Linked DNA regions of Homo sapiens: region 2 is linked to region 1. A link means that fine-mapping ties the variant in region 1 to the expression of a gene that starts in the linked region. Tissue or cell type: whole blood. Region 1 holds a variant in brackets; the other region holds the start of a gene. All regions are shown on one strand. Distances are between the middles of the regions.

Region 1 (2,682 bases):
CATACAAAGTTTTTAAATATTTTATCTATACACAGGAGTCGTCAGAAGGAAAGTGAAAACCCAAAGAATTAATTAAGCCCAAATGCTTATATACCTTTTTACATAAAGAATAATAAATCGGTGGGTGATGTGAACTGGAGTCTGAGCCGGCTATAAAGAGAACAACAACAACAAAAGAATGACAGGCCAGGCTTGGTGGCTCACACCTGTAATCCCAGCACTTTGGGAGGCCAAAGCTGGTGGATCACCTGAGGTCAAGAGTTCAAGACCAGCCTGGCCAACATGAGGAAATCCCGTCTCTACTAAAAATACAAAAATTAGCTGGGCTTGGTGGCGGGTGCCTGTAGTCTCAGCTCCTCGGGAGGCTGAGGCAGGAAAATTGCTTGAACCTGGGAGGCAGAGGTTGCAGTGAGCCAAGACTGTGCCACTGCACTCCAGCCTGGGCAACAGAGACTCTGTCTAAAAAAAAAAAAAAAGAATGACAAATTGTGGGGATGTGACAAGACAAAGAGGCTTGAGCTAAAGGCAGTTAGTTGTGGGACAATGACTAGGAAATACATGGGGTTATTTTAGTAGGTTCATTTGTACAGGCCCACTGCGCCATCAACCCTCAGTCTCCGGTGATGGGAATGTGCTTCTCTTCCTGGTACAGAGAGGGCATCTTTCTCATGGGAAATTTTATGAACTGTATTTAGGTAAAAAGATGGAATTCAGAGGGTTCTTCCTGCACCGGCTGTTTCTCAAGTGGCTTCAGCTCAAAATAATATGCCAGAGTGGCATATTTTGGGGTGGCATGTCCTGAACCCCTTCACTAACAATGAATTTTCTTCTTCAGAAAAACTTGGTAGTGGTCAGGCACAATGGCTCACGGTTGTAATCCCGGCACTTTGGTAGGCCGAGGCAGGCGGATCACCTGAGGTCAGGTGTTCAAGACCAGCCTGGCCAGCATGGTGAAACCCCATCTCTACTAAATAAAAATACAAAAATTAGCTGGGTGTGGTGGCACATGCCTGTTATCCCAGCTAGTTAGGAGGCCAAAGCAGGAGAATTGCTTGAACCTGGGAGGCAGACGTTGCAGTGAGTCAAGATGGTGCCACTGCACTCTAGCCTGGGCGACAGAGCAAGACTTTGTCTCAGAAAAAAAAAAAAAGAGAAAAGAAAAACTTGGTAGAGAAAAAAAAAATCTGTTAACCTAATTAAACAAGCCTACAGTTGTGTAAGCTGGATTGTCAGCTATCAGATGCTCTTATAATGTGGCTCACCTGAGCTTACAAATGAATATCATTATTTCAAGGAGTGTGTTGAACCATTATGTTAATATTTACACAGCAATTAATGTAATACACCATATTAATTGAATAAAGAACAAAACCCACCCCTCCAATAGATGCCTAAAAACATTCGACAAAATCTAACAGTTTAAAAGCATTCAACAAACTAGGGAGAGAAGGGGACTTTCTCAACCAGATAAAGGATATCTACAAAAACCCCCAGCTAACATCATACTTCCTTGTGAAAGACTGGACGCTTTCCCCGAAGATCCCTTGTTAAGATTAATGGTTGCATGCGGTGGTGG[G/C]GGGGAACAGGAAGTGACTGCTAGTGGGTATGGGGTTTCTTTTTGAGGTGGTGAAATTAGTGGTGATTGTTGCACAACTTTGTCAATGAATACACTAAAAATCAGTAAGGGTATGGTGGCTCACACCTGTAATCCTAGCACTTTGGTAGGCTGAGGCAGGAGGCTCACTGGAGCCCAGGAGTTCAAGACAAGCCTGGGCAACATAATGAGACTTCATCTCTACTGAAAAAAAAAAAAGAAAAATTAACTGGGCATAGTGGTGCACATCTGTAGTCCTGGCTACTCAGGAGGCTGAAGCGGGAGAATCTCTGGAGCCCAGGAGGTCGAGGCTTCAGTGAGCCATGATTGCACCACTGCACTCCAGCCTGGTCAACAGAGTGAGACCCTGTCTCAAAAAAACAAAACAACAACAACAAAAAAAGCCACTGAAGTGTACACTTTAAAAGATACCTGAATTAAATCTCAAAACTGCTTTTTTTTTTAGTAGGGGACAGGGTCTCACTCTGTTGCTCATACTGGAGTGCAGTGGCTCGATCTTGGCTCACTGCAACCTCCACCTGCGCAAGGATGACACAAACATTCATAAAGCATTCCATATTTAATTTTTAAAAAAAAATCAAAATTACTTAGTAAGGAAATATTCACTTAAGAAGTCCTAAATTAGATGGGATCCAGAGTTAATTAATTCAGCAGCTGGCTGGTGTCATCAAGGACCCAAGTTCTTTTTTTTTTGAGACAGACTCTCGCTCTGTCACCCAGGATGGAGTGCAGTGGCTTGATCTCGTCTCACTGCAACCTCCATCTCCCAGGTTCAAGTGATTCTCCTGCCTCAGCCTCCCGAGTAGCTGAGATTACAGGTCCACACCACCATGGCCAGCTAATTTTTGTATTTTTAGTAGAGATGGGGTTTCACCATGTTGGCCAGGCTGGTTTTGAGCTCCTGATCTCAGGTGATCTGCCTGCCTCAGCCTCCTAAACTGCTGGGATTACAGATGTGAGCCACTGTGCCCGGCCCAAGGGCCCAAGTTCTGTGCTCTTGCCACTCTGCTATCCTCAACTTGCTGGCTCATCTTCAGGCTGCCTTAGATCTAGCCACCCTGTCTGCT
Region 2 (2,682 bases), 61 kb after region 1:
ACCATGTTCGCCAGGATGGTCTCCATCTCTTGACCTCGTGATCTACCCGCCTCGGCCTCCTAAAGTGCTGGGATTACAGACGTGAGCCACCATGCCCGGCCCACAGAGGTCAGTATTTTAACCTGCAATCTGCAAAGGAGGAAAGTGGAACTTCCGAACAACTCAAGGCCCCGGCTTGTCAGCAGGAGCTGAGATCGAAACCCCGGATGCCCACCTGAGGCCCAGGACCCAGTCATCTAAGGGGCTGAACTCTTTCTCCGGCGGTTTGTCAGCACCTAAAGATAGTGGTGTCTCTTTTGCTTCTCTAGCACTCCCCAACACACCTCCCACCCCTACCGCCTCCCCCAACACACACACCACCCCAAACACCTGGAACACAGCTGGGTATTCAGTCAGAGCTAAAGGAGAGCAGCCAGAGGTGTGGGGAGAGAGCCTGCTGGTTCTGTCATATTTCACAAGTGAGTGAGTGCACAGCCCCATGTCTGGACCTCCTGCAAGCAGAGGACGGTGGGTGCCAGCCTGGGCCCTGTCCCCAGCACCTGGGACCTGATAGGGGCTATTGTTTGTGGGCTTGGCCCTGTGTATAAGAACCTGGTTATTTTCAGCACCCCCTTCCCCACCCCGCAAACCTAGCATTTAGTGAGTTCCTAAGTACCCCGCCCTGTACCAGATCCTTTATATGACCCGACAATTCTGTGGGGGAGATGGGATTATCATTATTTGACAATTTAGAAAACTGCACAGAGATGGAGCGTAACTTGGCCAAGACCACACAGCTAGTCAAGTAGATGTCATTTGGCTCCCTGAGATCCAAGCTGCCCCCATCACCACCATCACCACCTCCCAGTAGGGTCTCTGGGGTCAGCACTGCCACCATCACCACCATCAACACCTCCCAGTGGGATCTCTGGGGTCAGCACTGCCCCAGCCTCAGAAAAGCCAAACTTGGGTGTTGGGTTCTCCAGGAATGTTTGGACACTAGAAGTTATTTCTAAACATGAGACTCTGGGCCTGAGAAAGGTGCCAGAAAAATCCCTTAAAAACAGAAGCAGCCGAGCACAGTGACTCAAGCCTGCAATCCCAGCACTTTGGGAGGCCGAGGCAGGCTGATTGCTTGAGCCCAGGAGTTAGAGACCAGTCTGGGCAACAAGGCAAGACCTCGTCTCCACAAAAAATACAAAAATTAGCCAGGCGTGGTAGAGCATGCCTCTAGTCCCAGATACTCGGGAGGCTGAAGTGGGAGGATCACCTGAGCCTGGCAGGTCCAGGCTGCAGCGAGCCATGATCGCGCCACTGCACTTCTGCCTGGACAACAGAGTGAGAGACCCTGTCTCAAAAAAAAAAAAAAAAAAAAAGAAAAGAAAAGAAATAGAAGCACCCATCTGCTTAGGTGCAGCCTGGGGGCATGACCTTGGTTTGCCTCCTGAGGACATTTTTATATGCCTCCCCCTTGCCCAGCAGGGGCCAGGATTCCCCCTTACCTGTAGCAGGGGCAGCGGCTTCAGCTGCAGTGACCGTGTGTCTCTGTCTGGGTCCTGGCCCCAGCCTCAGCCTCTATGCTGTCTGGCAATTGCAGAAGTGAAGAAACAGAGCGTATCACTACCAAGTCACCCCTGGGAGGAAATGCTGTGGCCCTAGGGCCTCTCAAGGGGTACCACAGGAACTTCCAAGCTGGGCCGCCAGGACCTGGGCACTGCACAGAGGCTTCTCAAAGAGCGAGGGATGGGGTGGGGTGTAGACAGCGCCCGAGGCCAGGAGCTAAGGTGAGAAAGAGGAAAAGCAAGAGAGAGAAAGCAAGTGCATGTACTCAAGAGAGCGAAAAAGGGAGCATGAGAGTGAGAAAGAGGAGGGAGGAGAGATGAGGGACCAGGAAAATCAAAGGAGAAAGGGAGGAGGCAGGAGGGAGTCGGGAAAAAAAATGAGAGGGCGGAGGAATGGATGGAGGGAGCGAGGCTCAGGGAAAAAGACAGATGTAAACACCGGGAGAGATGAGAGGAACAAGGAGATTCAGGGACAAAGACAAGGTAAGATCCAAGACAAAAGACGAGATGACAAGACACAGACAGCGAGCATGTGCCTGTGCACATTTGGGTCTGTGCGTCTCTGGATGGGGGTGAGAGAGAAAATAAAAGAAGGGGAGTGGAGGAAAGAGAATGCCCGCTGGGATATAAAGTGGAGGGAGAAGAGAGGAGCTCGGAAGAGCCACTGTGGTCAGGGGCATGACAGGGCAGGGCCTCCCTGGAGACCAAGAAACATTGAGCCCAGAAACCCCATGGGAACAGATCTGTGGGGGTGGAGGTGGAAGCTCCCTGAGACCGTGTTTTGTAGAGATAGGGTCTCCCTGTTTTGCCTAGGTTGGTCTCAAACTCCTGGGCTCAAGGGATCCTTCCGCCTCAGCTTCCCAAAGTGTTGGGATTACAGGCATGAGCCACTGAGCCTGGCCCTGTGTTTGTTTTTTTGTTCATGCGGTTGATTTCTGGAGAGAACTGGCTCCATTGTCCAGTAGAATGTTCTATATTCTGGACTTGGTTGATTGCTTCCTTGTGAGGTCCTTTAATCTATTCCTCTGTCTCCTGTATTTTCTGAAAACAGGTTTGATTAGATTCAAATTTGGACATACTTTCTTCTTTTTTTTTTTCACCCAGGCTGGTGTGGGTTGGCAGCGTATGAGTTCATGGGAGC

What was found. PIP is the estimated chance that this variant, and not a neighbour inherited with it, causes the effect.
Region 2: it holds the start of PTAFR, and the variant in region 1 is fine-mapped to the expression of PTAFR in whole blood (TOPMed, PIP above 0.99).

What each region holds. Positions count from the first base shown.
Region 1 is chr1:28,113,866-28,116,547 of GRCh38, forward strand. No RefSeq gene overlaps it. Among named protein-coding and RNA genes, the nearest start is that of EYA3, 27 kb to the left of the region's middle. The variant G/C (reference allele first, on the strand shown) is at 1,577.
Region 2 is chr1:28,175,111-28,177,792 of GRCh38, forward strand. It overlaps PTAFR (platelet activating factor receptor), which reads right to left and starts at 1,580. Exons shown (of 2, transcript NM_000952.5): 1 at 1,482-1,580.